Linked DNA regions of Homo sapiens. The protein of the gene in region 1 purifies or fractionates together with the protein of each later gene. This does not show direct contact. Each region holds a gene or a part of one and is shown in the gene's direction. Other genes may lie near its edges.

Region 1 (5,137 bases):
TGTGGTGTTTATGGAACCAACTTGCAAATGCAAACATGAGCAAACCAAAGCAATGTAACAAATGATCCTCAACAGCTGGGTTTCTTCAATGCTGAAACTTGTAATAAACATCCATGGCTATCTTTGGAACACGATTTGTCTGTAAACATACATACATCTATTTACTAGAACCACAAGGATTAGTTAACAAAAAAATTACCTAAGAACCATCAACTTTCACTTCTCCAATTGGGTCACAATCTACAAGTTAATCTGCTAGGAAAAAAAAAAAATAACATTCCTCTCTAACTGTGGTGGGAATCAGTAATCATAGGATTCCCAGGAAGATTCTGAAAAGCCCTTGGATATTGAAGGATTTGGGTTGCAGTTTTCTCAATCTGTTAGATGTTGAGGGGGGGCGGAGGAAATACACCTTTTTTTTTTCCCCACAATCCTAAAAGTTTATGAACTTTCAGAGAGACACAGGAGCCAACCTGAAAGAGTTCCCAGTGGTCAAAGCTGGAACCATTTGAGCAACAAAATTAATAATGTAGTATTGAATTCTAGCCCAAAGTATAAAATAAATATACATGGGTCCATACTGACATAACAAATACTGACATAAATGATTGAATAAACAAGAGAGATGGAACAAATCTTCCTTACAGAATCATTCTAAATAATAACATATAGATACTCCCTGCTCTGGGATGGAGTTTAATCTTGCCCTCATCTTGAGTGTCAGCTGAATTGAGTCATGCCATTCATGCCATTCAGAGTAGAGTGTATGGAAAGAGAAAAACAGCTTTGCAGTAGAGAAACCTGGCAGACACAACCTTAACTATGGGATCAAGGTCAAGTCACCAGTGATAAGTCACCTGGCCATCGTGCCATCGTCCCTGAGAGGATGCAGTGGGGAAGGCACTTCATCTCTGAGTCTTTCCTCCCCCCAGTCTCATCATGAGAAAAAAACAGTAGACAATACCCACATGAGTGGGTGTCGAGGTACCCCCACAAAACTATACCTTACCAGAATACTTCATCACAATACTTTACTAGAATTCTTTACAGCTGTCAAAGTCAAGAAAAGACAGAGAAACTGTCATGGATTAGAGGAGACAAAGGGCACAGGATGCTAAATGCAGTGTGGTATCCTGGCTGGGATCCTGAAAGGGAAAGGCGTTAGCCAAAAAGCTAGTGACAGCTACATCAAGTCTGGAGTAGTGTTAATAGTGGCAGATCAATGTTAATGTCTTTTAAAAAATATTTTTAGTAGAAATGAGGTCTCGCTATGTTGCCCAGGCTGGTCTCGAACTCCTGAGCTCAAGCGATCCTCCCGCCTGCCTTGGCCTCTCAAAATGCTGAGATTACCAAGGCGTGAGCCACCGCACCTGGCCCAATGTGAATTTCTTAGTTTTGACAAATGTGCCACAGTTATGGAAGCTGTAGGCATTAGGAGACACCGACTGAGGGGTATATAGACGACTCTCTCTACTATCTTTGCAACTTTTTTTAAGTTCCAAAAGAAAGTTTTTTAAAAAAACAACAAAATTGCACTTGTACTCCATAAATTTATACTAAAAACAATAAAATCAAAAATTATTTAAAAAACAAAAACAAAAGTTTATAAACTTAGGGTGCAAATAGAACCTTCTTGAAAAGCAGCGGCCGATCCCCTCCCCCCACCCGCCTGTACAGCACCCTAGCGAGGGGCGTGAGGGGCAGAGCCTGGCTCTCCAGCGCTGGGCGTACGCGTCCTGCCGCGACTCCTCCCCGGGGCCTCACCGGCGCCGGACTCTGCCCTGGGCGCGCCCCGCGGGGCGGAGCCAAGCCTGCGGGCGGTGGCGGCTGCACTCGCAGGGCCCTGGCAGCCGACCCTGGCCCCAAGGTCCGATCGCCCAGGGGAGGAGCAGCACCGGGACCCCGCGTCGGCTGGGCGCCCCACAAGGTAGGCGAGTCTGGCCACCTTCGGGCCCGGTCCCTGCGGCGCGCCCCCGCATCCCCTCCATGTGTGTGGGTGTCCAGGTGCCTTTCCAGCGGCTTCCCCAGTGGAGTTCCTGGCATCAAGGACATTTCCTGTAAAAGGGTCCTTGTTGAAGAGGTAATCCTCCCTGGAAACCTCGGTTCTGGGCTCGAATTTCCTGGGCGAGAAGTTTCTTCCCCATTGGGAAGAGCTGCTTTTCCGCAGAGAGGAACCCCTACTTAGTCCGGCGCACACCTGATTATTTATTTAGGTTGTTGTTATACAATCCGTTTGTCAGGGGTCCCCGCGATTTCTGCCTGCTAATTTCAGAGGCTATGGAGAAAAGTCCTGCGGTAAACGCCCTGACCTAGGAACTCCAGCGTGGTGGCTTTGACAGGTCACTGCGCTCGCATTTTTTAAAGAGCAGAGATGAATGAAGGTGGCTGTCTTCATTCATTTGTGCGGGCTTCTGCAGCCGCAGGTGTAGTAAAAAGAGCAGCCCATTGCTTGACCTTTTCCTTAATGTTGAGTAGCATCATGATATTTTAGATGTGGAAGTTACAGAGTGCTAGGCGGCTAGACAAAGGAACACTCTTATCTTACTGAAGGTTAGTACGGGACCGTGCAAGTGTAGTTTTTAGATTGGATGATAACATAGCTGTGAATTTTCAGCCTTTTTGGAAGTGAAGACAAAATTGAATATAAGGATCAGAACAAGCAACAAGCCCTGAACATAACTGAAGGTGTACCTGCTCCCCATTATATTCTGATTGTTTTATTTTAGGAATCAAAACCTCTTTTACTTTCTTGGTGTATATAGTTCGGATGAAGTGTCAGAATACAAAAAGGAATTATTCTGTGTTTGTGATAGGGAGGAGATAATCTGTTCTTTTGATTTTACCTAATGCCATTAAATATTCAGAGCTACTGAAGTCTGGTTTTCCTGATATGTGAGCTGGGCAGGAGTGTCAGGTACCCTGGCAGACACAATTGGTGCTGTTGTTATGCTTTTCCCCCGCTGCCCACTCTCTTCCCCACCCCACTCCCAATTTGAGAGGGAAGGCCCCTGACACAGAGGAATTTCTGCCCAAGGCAGGGAGTATCCCCGTGTGGTTCCTCAAATGTTTGCAGAAAGAATGAAAACAACTACACTTCTTGGGACCCAGGCCAACGTCATAAGGCCGACGTCATAAGAAGGTTCTTTCCTCTTGTTATTTACAAAATAAATTGATCCCTTGTCCTAACTAGAAAGAGACTTTTGAAATTAATACTGTTGCTATTTTGTGAATTACTGATAGGCATGTTATTTGTTAGCTTATTTGTTTACAGTATGCTCAACATTGAAGGTGAGTTGTAATCCAAATTTTGGCCAAAGCTAAAAAATGTAAGCTAGATTTAGACAAACCTGAAAAATGAGGTGTTTATTTGCTTGGAATAATGACTGAAAGGGGAAATAACTGAAGATTTTGATGGGAATGTAAAAGTCTTTTAAAATAGTAGTTTCTCATCTTTAGAACTGAGATATTTACATCAAAATTATATGGCTATTTATTGATTGAAAACATTTCATAATGGCAAAATTTTACCATGAATTTACTAACACGTTTAAATGAATGTCATTTACTAAGCACAAAAACAGCCATTTATATAGGTTTGGAAAATGAGAGAGAGAGAGAGAGAGAGAGAGAGAGAGTGTGTGTGTGTGTGTGTACATTGTTTTAGAAACTATTTGGTACATCTGTAAATTTGTGGGCCTATTCATGTATTCATTGAAACAATATTTATTGAGGACACTGTGTTCTGTGTGGGAGAACCAGATGGGAGGGGAAGTAGGGTCTGGGCCAAACACAGCCCTGTGTAAATCAGACACATTTCTATCCTCCTGGAATTTACTACATTGGAGTCCTCCAGGCCACCCCAAGTCAAGGCCATAGATTTACAGACCACATAAATGATCCATTCAATTTCGACAGTGACTAAAACTAGATTAGTTTCAAATCACATATTTCCTTTCACTGATTTAAAAAGTCAAGTCTAAAAATGATAGAGGAGCTTGCATGTTATTCTGCTCAGTGGTTTTCTCTTTTGTTTAGGTTGGGGAAGAACTTAGGAATCATGTGTTCCAGGCTTAATGTTATGAAATATTAACTTAAAATAGCTAAGTATCAATTTCATGCAAATTAAATAAAAACTAAACTTGTAGTATGGATGACAATAATCTAGAGACAAAAATTAATGAACAAAAAATTTAAAACTGAAAAACATCTATCCATTAAATTATATTTTTTCCTATAAATTAGAAAAATAAGACTACAGTTACATTCACCCCACCCCCAGAGGAAAACAGCATCTTTATTCAAGTTATTCTTACTTTTCCTTCTGTATTTTTTTTTAAAAAAGCTTTATTGGAGGTATAATTTACATACCATAAAATACATCCAAGTGTATAATTCAATGATTTTTGGTAAATTTACTGAATGGTGCAACCATTAGCACAATCCAATTTTAGATCACTTCATCATTCCCCAAATATCCCTGGGGCCTGTTTGCAATCACTCACCGTTCTTACCCCAGCCCCAGCAACCCCTAATCTATTTTGTCTGTTTAGATCTGCCTTTTCTGGACATTTCATACAGATGGAATCGTACAATATATAGTCTTTAGCATCTGGCTTTTTTCAGTTAGAATAGCTGTTGAGGTTTATTCAGGTTGTCACATGTAGCTGTAGTTGGTTCCTTTTTATTGCTTAACTAGGATTTATTCCATGCCATGGCTATGCCGCATTTTGTTCACCATTTGGTAGACCTTTCTGCAAATACTTTTGCATGGTAAAACAGATACATTGGTGCAGCTTCTATGGTAGCATAATGTGAGAATAACTGATATGAGCCAACCTCTTATTTGGTGCTTTGACTCTCTTCTATGATAATTTTAAATATGAATGCCAAGAGTTAAACATCCAGGTTCCTATTAAGCAGTGGTGTTTTCTGTGTGTAACTCTCCAACAAACCAATGTTAAGAACTTCTTACCTTGGCTGGGCACAGTGGCTCACACCTATAATCCCAGCATTTTGGGAGGCTGAGCTGGGCAGATCACGAGGTCAGGAATTCGAGACCAGCCTGACCAACATGGTGAAACCCCATCTCTACTAAAAATACAAAAATCACCTGGGCGTGGTGGCATGCGCCTGTAAT
Region 2 (4,984 bases), on another chromosome or scaffold:
AAAAAGAGAAGAGCAGAGAGCCAAAAATGGACCCTTAGAGAACATCTGTCTTTGGTTGGACGGGATCCTCCCCCTACAAAACAAACAAACCAACCGGGGGAAAAATAAAGGGAGGGGAAGGGAAGCATAAAATTAAAGTCAGAGAAATATCACAGGAGTTACTAGAATGGTATCCATCCTATTTCCCTTGTTCAAGAAATGAATGTATTTCTTTATTGTTCATTGTAGAAAAACGAAGCACAAGGCTTGACTATACAGTGGCCACTCAATAGATATCTGCTGAAGAACGAATGAATGAATAGTAAATGCAAATTTCTTATTCAAACCTTAAAAATATCCTCTATTATCTGTCTTTCTAGCTGTTTATTTTTCCTTAAACAGCCTATACATAGTTGAATAATTACTCTGGGAAGCAATGGAATTGTAATTTGTGTTGAAGCCAGACACAATTTGGTTCAAATTCTAAAACTACCAGACACTAGACTGATCATGGCAATGTCTGACAAAAGTTTTCCTCCCCTACCTGCTCTCTCCCCTCCCTTTGGGGATTCGAAGGTAGAAGATAGTAAGAACAAGGCCTTTCCCCAAATAGCAGTTTTATCTCCCAAGATGATCTGGATTTTAAATTACTATGTGCAAAGTTACTAGGGATGCAAAAATGAATTAAAACAGATTTTACTGTAAAGGAATTTTTGAGTCTGATGGGGGAGTCAGACGTAGACATAAATACAAGACAAGACACGGCGAAAATCCTAAACATGAAGTTTGCAAGTTCCAGGAAAGGTCTAGGAAATAATTATCTCTAAGGAGTGGGTGGGATTAGGGAGGTTTTATAAAAAAAGTGACACTTGAATTGGGTACTGCAGGAACAGTCTAATGAAAGGTAAAGTCAGGGGGCTGGAAAGTTTGGTACCTATTGAGGCAGACAACAGCATTAGAGATCTATTACTTTAACAATTAATTGTTTTGCTTCTGCCTTTAGAAGCTTATTTATAGTTTAATAGGGAAATAAAACGAGTATATAACATACATAGAAAACTAGTGGGCTTCACGAAAAGCATTACACCCCGTTTTGAGGATTCTTCTGAATTTTAAATTCTGATGCAGTGTCCTCCCCCCACGCCTTAATCCCGGAAAATAAGTGTTCAGAATCACGTCTTAGAAATATGAACCATAAAGGACAGCATTTAAGAGCGACATCCTGCATTGCGTAGATTCAATTTCAAATTACTGTACTTAGCTTCTATGAGCCTGTTAACTTTTTAATAAAATGAGGATAATACTTTCCTCAAAGAATTGTTAAGAACGACACCGGATAAAGAATGCATGACAAACACAGCACCTAGTATCTATGTCCTAAATTTACGTTTAATTAAGTAGATTGGTACGTGCAGTTTAAAAGAGGTTTCACCAGGCAGCACAGTTCCCCTGGCTGTAGGCGATAGACCACGCCTTCCTAATCAGCGGGCGCATTCCCTGACTTTTGCGGAAATAGCGGTCCAAAACCGCGTCTAGCATTAGCAAAAGCACGTGGTCTCCGTCTCCCCGCAACAACAAAAAAGAACAGTAAACTCCGGCGCAGGCACCTCCAGTAGAGGGCTTGTTTTTAAAATCCATCCGAAAGGGCCAATCAGACGCGGCAGTCTGAGTGCGCAGGCGCGGATTGGTCCGCAGCTACTTAGAGTGACCAATAGGCGTGGAGGTAAGTTTGGTTGAGACCAGAAGCGGGCGAATTGGGCACCGGTGGCGGCTGCGGGCAGTTTGAATTAGACTCTGGGCTCCAGCCCGCCGAAGCCGCGCCAGAACTGTACTCTCCGAGAGGTCGTTTTCCCGTCCCCGAGAGCAAGGTGAGCGTCCTGACTGGGTCCGGATCCTGGCCCTGGCGGCGGGCGGTAGGCGGCGGGCGGCGTGGGGGTGCCGCTGGCTTTTTGCCGGCGGGTACTGGGCGGGGAGGCCTCTGGGATCACTCTCCCGGCCCTGTAGGTGCCGGGGACCGCCCCCTCCCACCCGACCGAACTGGAGAATCCGCCCCGGGATGTGGTTCGTAGGGGTGTCTGCGCCCTTCTGCTCGGGTTCAAACTGGTCTCGGATTAGTGTCCCAGACCCTACTCGGTCACGGACTCACACTTTAGGGGATCATTTTCTTCCTCCGTAAAAGAATTGGAGATGACTAGGTATTTCCAAGCCGCCTTCCCAGTCCCGTAACCAACCTTATTGAAATTCAGGCCCTGGTCCTTTGTTTTATTGAGTAGATGTAAGCTTGAGTTTTGATCTGGTTGGCGACGTGGGGTGCCTATGGTTAGTTACGCGAGCATTTCTCTTTCCCCTCTCTTCTTCCTCCCGTCCACATTTTTTTTTTTCTTTTTTTAAATAGAGATAGGCCTCCCTATATTGCCTAGGCTGGTCTGGAACCCCTGGGCTCAAGGGATCCTCCCGCCTTGGCCTCTGTAAGTGCCAGGATTACAAGCATGAGCCACTACGCCCGGTCCTCCCTTCCACATTTATTTGAACGCGCCTGTGTGCCCGGCTCGGCTGTGTAATGAGGACCCAGAAATAAAAGGCATGGGTCGTGTCCTTGAGCCTGACCTAGAGGAGAAGGCAGGGTTATCATTCTCAGACCCAGCCTTGGTACAGTGCACGGGGACTCTGGCTTTTTGGAGGAGGTGGGGAATTCTGACAACGGGAAAGCAGTGGTGGAGGTGGGGCAGGAGGAGGTCACACAAGAGCTTCCTTGGGGACTAAGGGACTGGGTAGTTCGGGCATGAAGAGTGCCCTCCACGTATTTAAGAGATAAAGATACAGCATTTTCTGGAAAGGACAATAGTCCTGCAAGTCCTCCATGCAGGAACCTTCATCCAGGGCTTTTCTTCACTCCCCACCTCGATTCCCTGTTCCTCAAAAGTAAACTTCTGGGTTTATTTTTTTGTTCTTTTGCCCCAATGGCCCAATACAGGTGGCTGATAGCTGATCCCTTAATGGGCCAAAATCTGCTCTAATCACAGTTAGCTTGGTCTACATCTATATTGTTCTCTATCTTAGACTTTGGAATGGAAAAGCATTCAGCTTGCCAGTCTTCTTTATGTTTATTCCCCTCATTTTCTAATCATCTTTCTAAATTGCTCCTTTTTATATTCTGTTGGCTATAGCATCTTGATGTAATGATTTCAGTTGCTGGCTGAATTGTTTAGGGCAATTACAGTTGTGTGTCTCTGGGTACAGTTCTTTGACTCCTGACAAACTAGATTGGAATGGAGGATATTGAGACAGGGTCAGTTGTCCTTTGTTGGTTGAGAGGCATGTGACTCCTTTCAGTAGTTTTGGGATAAATGGGAGTGGAATACAAGATGCTGTGTTCCAAGAACTGAGAGCTAGAAAAAAAAACAAAACTGGTAGCAAAACACAGCTTTCCAGGGCTTTGATATCCAACTTATATGTTGTCTAAGACCTTTGCTTCTCCCTCTTAATTTTTTTTATTGTTCTTAGTACTTTCATGAACTGCTTATTGTTTTGATAAAAAGTTTCATTGATAAAATCGATTGAAAAAAACCATTAAAATGGCCGTTAACTTTATTTAGTAAAAAAACAAATTCTCAAACTCTTGCCTAAGTAACTGGAAAATGAATGATTTTTCTTTTTGTTTATGTTCTGAAGGCTAAAATAAAGGAAAGTTGCTATATTTTCTTCCAGCTGATTTCTATTTCCTAAGATGTGGCTGAGAAGGAGGTAGGCCACTTCACCCTTTGTACCATAGGCTGAAATATACAAGTGAAAAAGTGTTTTTAAAAAGTATGTAATAGCTAACATATATGGAAAGCTTACCAGGAAAGCTTACTGTTTCTAAGGCCTTAGGAAGTCACCATCATTATTATCCTCATTTTACAAACAAGGGAAACAAGGCATAGAGCAGCTAAATAACTTGCCCAAGGTCATACATCCGTAAGTGCCTGAGCTAGAAGAATCCGCTTTGTTTTTTTTTTTTTTTAAATTTTAAATCTTTAATTTCTGTTTTCACGTATTTTCTTCTTGCTTCCAAAAGGAAAGGAGTGCGTAGCTCTGTTGCCTGTACATCGTCCACAGCCCCTGGGTTGGAGCGGGGTCCCCTGGGCCGCCCGGGGGTCCACATGCAGCCCCTGGGGGGCCGGCGCGGGGTGAGGTCCGGGGGCTGCCTTATTGCTGAGGTCTGGCCGGTTGGTGCCGCCGCTAGGCGAGCTGGCTGGCAGCTCCTGGGAGATGAAGCGACGCAGGCCCTCCAGGTACTGGCTGTAGAGCTCGATGTCGTTGTGCCTGGTGCCCTCCACCCACAGCGGCTCCACCGCCTTGGGGCAGCGCTCGTAGAGCGCCAGCCCGTGCGAGAAGTCGATCACCTCGTCCTCCGTGCCGTGGATGATGAGCACGGGCGACGTGATCTTGGACACCTTCTCGATGTTAGGGAAGGCGTCGAAGCAGTAGGTCTTCTTGGTGTCGGGGAAGGCGACGCGCATGCCCGAGGTGAGCGGCGAATGCAGCACCACCGCGGCACACTCGTAGCGCGAGGCCAGGTCCACGGTGGGCACCGTGCCGATGCTCTGCCCGTACAGGATGATGCTGTCCGGGCTGATGCCGTACCTGGAGGCGCCGGAGCAGGGTCAGCCGCGGCCTCCGACGCGCGCGCACCCTTCCCGCCAGCGGGCGTCCCCGGGCCCAGCTCCGGATGCGACCCTCCAGTCTCCCCACTCAGCCAAGTCAGTGGGTCAGGCCCAGGCTCCACACCAGTCCCGAGGGCCACCCCCAGCCCTCAACACCGCGGCGGTGGGCGAAGCCAGCGGCCCCACCCCGTTCCCTGGCGCTGCCGTTCCCTGGCGTTTCCTAGCTAGGATCTGTAGGGATCCCGCCTACGGAGTGGCCCTGGGGCGGAGGTAGGGGAGGCCCTGGCGCCTCTCCTCCTGATCACCCCTAGGTGCACACTGGGAACTGTGTGCCCCCCACATCCTGAATGCTTCACGCC
Region 3 (5,112 bases), on another chromosome or scaffold:
TTCAGAGCTTGTCCTGCCTGCCCCATCCACACCGCTTGGCACATGGGTCAGCCCGCCTTTACTTACCTTCTTCATCTGGCTTCCCGGATGTCACATCTCTTGGTTTTTGGTTGGTTTTTCCAGTTGGCTTTTCCAATTTATACCTGCAGCATGGATCTCTCCTCTGAACTCCAGATACATAAATCTGTCTATTTGACATTGCCTTGGATGTCTAGAAGGCATTTCAAACTTAGCAGGTCCCACACTTAGCTCCTAATTGTCAGTCCTGCCTCCAGCACACGCCCCTCTCGGTGTTCCCCATCGCAGTCGAGGACAACTGCATTCTTCTAGTTTCTCAGGCCTCAAACCTTAGAATCATCCGAGACTCCTGTCTCTCACATATCTCATCTGTCAACGAATCCCATCAGCTCTACCTTCAAAATATGTCCAGAATCCACCACCTCCACTGCTAACACCTGGCTCACTATCTCCTAGTAACCTGGAGGGCACTGTCTTCAGTCTGATCTTCACACAGTAGCCGCAGTATGAAGACACAGGGTAGACCATGCCTCTCTTCTTCTCCAAACTCTCCAGTGGGTTCCTCCTAGTCAAAGTCAAACCTCACTTGGCCCTCTAGACCTCACCTCTGCATCCTCCCGCTGGCCTTATCTCCTCCACCTCTGACCCTTGCTAGCTCTATTTCAGCTCCACCGGTCTCCTGGCCATTCCCTGAACCTGAAACATGGTCTCCTACCCCAGGGCCTGTGCACTGGCTCTCCCGGTGAGGAAACCGCTCTCCTTCCCATCTCCACCGGCGCGTTGCATCCTTCACCTCTTTGCTCACATATCCCTTTCTCAGAGAAGCTTTTACTGAGGCCTCTGCTCACCCTCTTCTCCCCTCCACATTCCGTGTCTTCCTTTTCTATTTCGTTTCTCTCTATGGTACTTATGGCTTATGTAACAAACTAATCTATTGTTTATATATTTATTTTTACTGTTTCTCTGTGAAAACGTACACTCGAAAAGGGCAGGAGTTTTGTCTGTTTGGATCAGGCTCCACCCCTGGAAGGTAGGACAGTGTTCAGCACAGCAGGTGCTCAATAGGTGTTGTTTCGTGAATCAGCACATCAATTGCAGCATTGTGGCTACCAGGGGGTCAGGATGCGGGCGGTGGAGCCCTCTGGCCTTTGTGTGGTAGCCGAGGACTCTGTGTCAGCGACCGTTTTCCGGGAAACTTCCGGGCGAGACTCACATCTTGGAAATTCAAATACTCAATAGCTCTCGAATTCTAGGAATCTTGAGAAGAGGCCTGGATTAAGGATTCAGACGTGGGCCCTCAGATGGGTGAGAAACGGGGACTCTGTGTCTCCTAGCGGGGACAGAAGGGCCAGGTGACAGGCCAGGCAGAGTGGACGGGGCTTGGGCAGGGGGCGGGGGCAGGCAGCCACACGGGGCAGGAGCTGCAGAGCTAAAGCCAGGCCATGTGGACTGGCTGCGGGTTTCGCTGCCTAGCTGGTGGCATTGAGCAAGTTACTTAACCTTTCTGAACTTCCGTTTTATGATTTTGGAGGAAACAGTCATAGCTTTCTCTCTGGCAGAGTCCGATGGCCCGAGTCCCGCTCCACAGTGCGGGTGGAGGGCACGGAGGGGTGTGTGTGGGGGGCGACAGCCCAGGAAGACTAGGGGGCGGCAGGGCGCGTGGGGGCGGGGGTTGGGAGACCGCAGGGAGGATCCCCGACCTTGTCTGAAGATCCAAGCAGGCGGAGCCGCGGTCTGGTCCGCGGGGTAGGCGGGGCGCAAGAGTGTTCCCGGGGGCGGGGGGCCGACCCGCGTCTAAAGGTTTCCGCGATTCACCCGCCGGCGCCTGGCCTGGCCCAGTTGCACCACGAGCGCTGCGGACACTCGGGGCGGCAGTCGGTCTGTCAGTCCTCCCGCCAGGTCCCGCGGCCCGCACCTGCCGCCCGCACCTGCAGCTCCGCACCTGCGGCCAGTGCCTACTGCCCTCTCTTGCCGCCCGCACCTGCAGCCCCGCACCTGCCGCTTGCACCTGCAGCCCCGCGCTCTACCCGGTTCAAGCATGGCTGACCAGGCGCCCTTCGACACGGACGTCAACACCCTGACCCGCTTCGTCATGGAGGAGGGCAGGAAGGCCCGCGGCACGGGCGAGTTGACCCAGCTGCTCAACTCGCTCTGCACAGCAGTCAAAGCCATCTCTTCGGCGGTGCGCAAGGCGGGCATCGCGCACCTGTGAGTCGGGCCTTGGGCGGTGGGCCCCGTCCTGTCTGTCTGCCTGGGGAGCCTGCCCGGCGGGCTGACGTTGGGCCCTCTGAGCCTCCTGCCGTCAGCCTCTGTCTGTCCGTCTGATGTCTGAGCGCCTCTCTCGCTCTCTGTCTGGTAGCCCCTCTCTCCAGAAGCTGGCTCAGCCTCACTCAAGTCCTCATCTCCTCCCTTGACCTTGGAGGGGCCCACCTGGGGGTCCGTCTCACAGGTGTACACCTGATTCCATCTTGCATTCCTCTTCTCTGCCCTGAGCAGCCTGCCTCGTACCCCTCTCAGCCGGCCAAGTGTGGGCACCTGGCCTGCCCGTCATACCCGCCCTAGCCTCAGACAGGAAAGTGCTAGCTCAGGTGCCTTCCTTCCCCATTTCTTCTTTGTCCTCCTTCACTCTTTCTGCAATTAGGGACCCAAGTCAGGTTTCTAATCCAGTTATCTCTGACCTGAAACAAGACCTGTTAGGAGCGAGTGTCCCCCCCGCCCCCCCCGCAAGCAGGCTGGGAGGTCTCCTGTGTGTCCAGAGCCTTTAGGAGCAGCAGGGCTTGTGTGCAAAGGAGCTCCCGTGGGCTGCCCCTTGCTGGGACAGTTGCCATGCTGTGCCAGAAACAGGAAACACCCAGGGCTTCAAAACCCCTATCGATTTGCAATGATGGTGTGTGCAGCCTCTGCCCAATTAGTGGAAAGCTCAAAAGTGGTTTGTAGAATGGTTCTGAATGCGCTATGGAGTGCATCTCGAACGTCACTGGGCACAGGAATCATTTGGGGATCTTGGTAAGATGTGTGCCCTCCTTCCATAGCTCTGGGACAGGTCCTGAGATTCTGCATTTCTAAGAAGTTCTCCTGTGGTGGGTGCTGCCCATCAGATACTGTTTGTCTACTCATCACATTGTGAGTAGCAAGGGGTCAAGTGGAGTGGAGACTCAAAGGACCCCTTCTTGTGAGGTTTTTTGTAAGTCACACAACATCCTTTCGTTTGTGTTGGTGTGCACAGGTATTTTCTTTTTCTTTTCTTTTTTTTTTTTTTTTTGAGATGGAATTTTGCTCTTGTTGCCCAGGCTGGAGTGCAATGGTGCGATCTTGGCTCACCGCAACCTCTGCCTCCCAGGTTCAAGCGATTCTCCTGCCTCAGTCTCCCGAGTAGCTGGGATTACAGGCATGTGCCACCATGCCCAGCTAATTTTGTAATTTTTTTTAGTAGAAACGGGGTTTCTCCATGTTGGTCAGGCTGGTCTCGAACTCCCGACCTCCGGTGATGCCTTGGCCTCCCAAAGTGCTGGGATTACAGGCATGAGCCGCCGTGCGCAGGTATTTTCTAGCTAACTGATCCACACTTTTAACTGAAGTGTAACTGGGTTTTCAGATTGTCCATACACTTTACTAACATTCCCCGCACTTATGCACACTATAAAAATGACACATGATGGGCTGGGCGCGTAGGCTCTAGCCTGTCATCCCAGCACTTTGGGAGGCCGAAACAGGTGGATTGCCTGAGGTCAGGAGTTCAAGACCAACCTGATCAACATGGTGAAACCCCGTCTCTACCAAAAATTAGCTGGGTGTGGTGGCAGGCGCCTGTAATCCCAGCTACTCGGGAGGCTGAGGAAGGAGAATTGCTTGAACCCAGGAGGCAGAGGTTGCAGTGAGCCGAGATCGCATCATTGCACTCCAGCCTGCGCGACAAGAGCGTGACTTTGTCTTAAAAAAAAAAAAAAAAGACGCATGATGCTCAGAGCTGACCTGAACAAATACAACCCTGCTACTTGGGTTTGGAATGCATTTCTCCATTCTTAAAAACTCTTCTCCGCCCCGCATCCTGCAATCTAGATTCCTTTTCTTACTGGCAGGCTGTCTGGCTTTGGTCCCACAGTATGGACTGGTGGAGGTAATTCATGTAAAGGAGTGGTATGATCACATTTATTTTTGAATATTAAGCAGACATGTTAAGGAAGGTGATGACTCCATTACTGTTGCCTCTGGCCCCTCTTAATAATACATTCCTAAGGATTCTTATTTTAGAAACATACCCAGGTGAAATCTTAAGCTTTAATTTACAGCTAGTATAGGTGGCTCACAGCTTTAACTGCCTTTGAGGACCAGGGATATATTTTAAAAAGAGGGCTTGTCGACTGGGTGTGGTGGCTCACACCTGTAATCCCAGCACTTTGGGAGGCTGAGACGGGTAGATCACTCAAAGTCCAGGTGTTTGAGACCAGCCTGGCCAACATGGTGAAACCCTGTCTCTACTAAAAACACAAAAATTAGCCAGGCATGGTGGCAGGCGCCTGTAATCCCAGCTACTTGGGAGGCTGAGGCAGGAGAATTGCTTGAACCCGGGAGGCGGAGGTTGCAGTGAGCCCAGATCGTGCCACTCTACTCCAGCCTGGCGACCGAGTAAGACTCTGTCTCAAAAAAAGAAAAAAAAGGGCTTGTCATGTCTGATATTGTTTAAAAAATGTGTCAGTACCTTTCACACCCCTAGAGAGACTGAGAAATGTAAGATGTGTTTTGAGGTGTCCCACTGTCTAAGTAACCTTAGACAGTGGGACCTTGGATAGTGAGATTTTGATGGTGGGGCCTGGATGAAGCATGTTAATTTTGGCTACGTAAGGTATGCGTTTTATTTATTTATTTATTTTGAGATAGAGTCGCACTCTGTTGCCCAGGCTGGAGTGCAGTGGTGTGATAATGGCTCACTGCAGCCTCAACCTCCCAGGCTGAATTGGTGCTCCCACCTCAGCCTCCCCTGTAGCTGGGACTACAGGCATGTGCCACCATGCCGGATAATTTTTGTGTTTTTGTAGAGATGGGGTTTTGTTATGTTGCCCAGGCTGGTCTCAAATTCCTGGGCTCAAGCGATCT
Region 4 (4,447 bases), on another chromosome or scaffold:
ATTGATAAAGGGTGGGCAAGCTTAGCCAGAGCATTTTAGAAGGATTTAAACAGCGTGAAGCCTTTTTAGAAGGCTTATTTTTATAGATGCCAATTCATTTGTAAGCCAATAAATTATCTGGTTTGAATTCTAGCTATTGAACTTGCATCTGTTGGGCAGGGGCTTATGGAGAGACTTAGTGAAGCTTGCAAAAAGATTTTTATCCTATTTATGAATAAAATAGAATTTTGAAAAGATTATGAGATTCTGAAAGTGAGCATCCTTGTTTGAAATTAGGACACTTCTTTATTGCAATTTAAGTCAGCAATTAACCATTTATTCAAGCTTTTGGATGGAAAAATTACAAAGCATCTATCTATACCCTAATTCTCACTTTAAAAACAAAGTTGGGAAAATATTGTTCATAGACGTGAGAAGAGAAGATCACCTTCACTTACACCTCAGGGTACCATACTCATAGCCTCAGGCATCCTAAATTAATGTGAGTCAATATGGCTTAAGAAGTGGAAGTTGTTATAAGCTTTCTCCTTTTTTTTTTTTTTTGTAACAAACATGCAGCTCTGTTTTCTGCTTCTGTAATTTACTTAGTAGTTGATTACAGGTTACTGAATGCACATTGTGCCAGGCTAATGGCGTTTTTTTGTTGTTGTGTTTTTTGTTTTTTGTTTTTTTTTTCCTGTAGCTAACCTGAGTTAACTACTTGATTGGGTAATCTACCAGTTATTAGGTTGAACAAAAGCATGGGTTTATTACATCCTTCAGGATAGTAAAATAATAAAGGTTGCTTACATTTTCGAATAAACGCTGATAGGATTCCCTTAGTTAAATATTATAGTGTAGTTGACAAAGGTTGTTATTTTTCTTTTTCTTTCTTTTTTTTTTTTTTTTTGATACGGAGTCTCTCGCTCTCTCCTGGGCTGGAGTGCAATGGCATGATCTCGGCACACTGCAACCTCTGCCTCCCAGGTTCAAGCAACACTTCTGCCTCAGCCTCCCGAGTAGCTGGGATTACAGGTGTGCGCCACCACACCTAGCTATTTTTTTTTTTTTTTTTGTATTTTTAGTAGAGACAGGGTTTCAACGTGTTAGCCAGGATGGCCCCGATCTCCTGACCTTGTGATCCACCTGCCTCAGCCTCCCAAAGTGCTATGATTACAGGCATGAGCCCCCGCTCCCAGCCATTTTTTCAAATGTATTTAATGTGACTTTCTTCCTGTGCATTTAAGCTTTCGTGTTATATTTTTGTATCATGATTTCATTCACAGTGATATTGTTGTGCTTTTGGTATCCAGCTAGAAGTGAGACACTGAGCAGAGAGGAGGCATTCTGACAGTAATCAGTTTGCTGCTAAGCAGCACTGGTTTTTGGCGGAAGTATTCTCCTATATAAACTCGTAAATGGCTGCAACTGCTTTTTCTATTGAGCTTTTACTAAACTTGAATTTATCCTTGTCACTCTTTCCTTTTATACTGAAAGTAGTCCAATATGGTGAGCCTGAAAATCTGTGCAGCCAATTAAAGTATTTGCAGAAAAGAAAGAAGAAAAAGAGCACTTTAATTTGATCATTGGCGTTATTAGGCTCCGACTTGCCAAATGGTGAAAGCTAAAGGCATAAATGGAGAGCTTTGCCCAAGTGGGGTTTGTCGGTGTTCATCACGTCAGCTGTAGAGTAAGTAAATGAGTCACTGGTGGTCACTGCCTAGTCTGTGGACCCCCAACAGCTATGTCTGCACACAGGTCCAAAAGCATCTATTATGATGCCCTCTCAAGGAAAGCAGCTGAGCCGAGAGGGGCATGCAGACATTCCGCAGAGCTCTTCAGCTGCTGAACCATCTGGATGCGAAATAAAAGGCCTGGGCTAGGGGCTCTAGCATTGTGCATATTTATTACTTGGTTTTCACTTGCCAGACTTTGTCCCCTTTTCACTCGCCAGACTTTGTCCCTTTTTCACTCCCTCTGGCCCAGAACAGACGTCCCCTTTAGCTGGGGTGTCATTGTTACAAGCTCCTTTCTGTACCTTGGTTGAACACTGAAAAGTTCATAAATCCACATGTCCACTCATGATTCTAGCCACACCTCCACCTATTTAGTTTGCAGTCCTATTTGGCACTGTGATTTCATCAGCTGGGGTAATGAACACCACTGTCAGAGTCGGCAGCATTTTGGCAGCCTTATTTTGAGTTATTTGGAAGGAAAATGCTCAGAATAATTGTCATTATGGGTGGTTATTGAGTGGTAAATGTTTTGATTAATGGTTCTGTGCATCTGCTTCTTATTTAACCATCCCCAGTTAGAACTCCAAAATATTGCCCATACTGGTTCTTTCATTCCGAAAGAGTCATAAAGCCTTCTGACAATTTGACTGGAAAGGTAGATGGTGAGGAGAGGCCCAGGTTTATTATGGCAGGCTTCGTAACACTGGAGCTCTTCTTTGCAATTTGAAGTAGAATTTCTCGCTCAAAATGTAACTTTCTTAATCTCTGAGTAAGACTCCTGCCTCTGGTGGGTACCAGTTAGGATCTGACCCTGAAAAGCACTGGATTGCACAGATTATACATACTTAAGTGTTTATTCAGGGGAAGTCATTTACGAATTACCAATTCCTGGGCAATGCCCATTATTGAAGACATGGGACACTTCATGATCATTTTTATATAAGAATTTCTTTCTTTCATGCCCTAAATCCCAAAGCTGCTTTAGAAAAAAAAGGGAATGTGTATTCTATCTGTATATCCCTGGTGCCTTGTAGGCTATAATTATTCAATAAATGGATCAAGGGAGGTAGGAAGGAAGGAACTCTGCTTCTCAATTCCAATTTGGAAAAGTTTGTGGCCATGGAGTGTTGTGTGGGGATTTCTACTGCTTAGTACTGTTCAACTGGCTAACACATAAAGGTGGAGATAAGTGGTTTGCCAATGGCATCATTTCAGAGGTCTCATTCATGTGTTCTGTGTGCATGTGTAGGATTGAGGGATAATATAATTCAGTGTCACACTAGAGTGCAAATCTTGGCTCCACCCCCATTTTGTTCAAGGAGATTAATGCTGTCTCCTTGGACAGTGGCTTAATTTTGCCAAGCCCCAATTTCTACATCTTGCGTGGGAAAATGAGAAGATCCACTTCTAAGATTTGGGAGGATTAAATGAGATGATATACATAAAGTACTTAGTTTAGGCCAGACTCATAGTAAATGTTCAGAAGTAATTCCCAGTTACAGTGCAGCTTTCTGCTTTTATTTGACATTAAATTTATCAATAACCTGCTTTTAAAGATAGAGGAAGCTCTGAACATTACCTGCTGCCATTATCATTTAGTTATATAATGATGTTTATATACATAGTACACTCCCTGCCCATTCTCAGTCTGTTCTATAGCATTTCACATCTCCTGCTTTGCTTCTTTGGAGGTAGATCTGTAGATAATTCACTTGTTACCTCCTCTTCAGTTTACCACTCCTTTGTAGCTGCAGGTATTCTTTTGGTTATCTTAAATTCCCTCTTGTATCAGCTTTCTCTGGAATTAGCCACTCTCGCTTGCTTGCCACATTTAACTCTCAGAACAAACCTTCCAGATGGATATTGTTATTCTCATGCTGTAATCGAGGGGACTTGAGAAAGGTTTTAGTATAGATTCTCCTCCAAAGTTTCATCCCATAGCAAGACAATGCAGTCGAAGTTTGTGAATCCATTTACTTAATTACTAGCCTATTGAATTAAACTTCAGACAGCGCTGCATGTTACAGATTGGCAGTTGGTGTTGGCTTTCTACTTCTTGCTTAGGAGGCTGAAAATGCCTTTGAGAAAGGGTGGGATGGGGGAAGTGGAGGTGTGTAGGTGGATGAGATGGGCATTCCAAAATTTTCATATGCCCATTTCTGTAGACCTCATTTAGGGTACGTTTCCTCTCAAGGAGTGATCCATACAGGAAGTCAATCCATGATATTTACCAAATCCCTGGCTTGAAGAACAGACTGACTGTAGTATGCATTTGGGGGAAGATATAAAAGAAATAGGAGCGTGGATCTTACCATTAAAGAACTTTCTGCCAAGTGGGGAGAAAAAAATTCTTGCACATGAAATTACTGATGAACATTTGGGAAATAATATCAACCAGTAAAAATGCCTTCTGTGCCAGATGAGCACTGACAACTTGTCACCATGCGTAACATCTCCTGGATGTTTCAGCGTGAGCATTTGTTCCACAGGGGTGGTGCTTGTCTCCCCTTCAGTCAAGCACAGTGTTTTGAGAAGGAAGGAGATGAAATAAAGAGATAAAGAAAAGAAAGCTGCCATAAAATGAAAGAGGTTTGATTTAGTGAAAATCCAATGACCTCCCAAAGAGTGGGGCATGATAGTATATCAAATTCGACACCGTGGATAAGATCAGGGCTTCTCAGTACATCAGTGTTTTATTCCTCTCTTTCATTGGTTTAAGATGGACAAATCCC

Evidence for each region. The genes of interacting proteins can lie anywhere in the genome.
Region 2: the proteins of CCDC68 (region 1) and CENPF purify together in Homo sapiens (affinity purification with mass spectrometry; 3 studies listed by BioGRID and IntAct, with this or other methods). This does not show direct contact.
Region 3: the proteins of CCDC68 (region 1) and FBP1 purify together in Homo sapiens (affinity purification with mass spectrometry; 3 studies listed by BioGRID and IntAct, with this or other methods). This does not show direct contact.
Region 4: the proteins of CCDC68 (region 1) and NIN purify together in Homo sapiens (affinity purification with mass spectrometry; 3 studies listed by BioGRID and IntAct, with this or other methods). This does not show direct contact.

What each region holds. Positions count from the first base shown.
Region 1 is NC_000018.10:54,956,126-54,961,262, reverse strand, and holds the start of CCDC68 (coiled-coil domain-containing protein 68), read left to right. Parts: upstream 1-1,801; 5' UTR 1,802-1,927; exon of another isoform or gene 1,928-2,080; intron 2,081-3,214; exon of another isoform or gene 3,215-3,288; intron 3,289-5,137. UniProt on the Homo sapiens protein: Centriolar protein required for centriole subdistal appendage assembly and microtubule anchoring in interphase cells. Together with CCDC120, cooperate with subdistal appendage components ODF2, NIN and CEP170 for hierarchical subdistal appendage assembly.
Region 2 is NC_000001.11:214,601,475-214,606,458, forward strand, and holds the start of CENPF (centromere protein F), read left to right. Parts: upstream 1-1,720; 5' UTR 1,721-1,847; intron 1,848-3,982; exon of another isoform or gene 3,983-4,605; intron 4,606-4,984. UniProt on the Homo sapiens protein: Required for kinetochore function and chromosome segregation in mitosis. Required for kinetochore localization of dynein, LIS1, NDE1 and NDEL1.
Region 3 is NC_000009.12:94,636,255-94,641,366, reverse strand, and holds the start of FBP1 (fructose-1,6-bisphosphatase 1), read left to right. Parts: upstream 1-1,848; 5' UTR 1,849-2,056; coding exon 2,057-2,226; intron 2,227-5,112. UniProt on the Homo sapiens protein: Catalyzes the hydrolysis of fructose 1,6-bisphosphate to fructose 6-phosphate in the presence of divalent cations, acting as a rate-limiting enzyme in gluconeogenesis. Plays a role in regulating glucose sensing and insulin secretion of pancreatic beta-cells.
Region 4 is NC_000014.9:50,824,199-50,828,645, reverse strand, and holds part of NIN (ninein), read left to right. Parts: intron 1-4,447. UniProt on the Homo sapiens protein: Centrosomal protein required in the positioning and anchorage of the microtubule minus-end in epithelial cells. May also act as a centrosome maturation factor.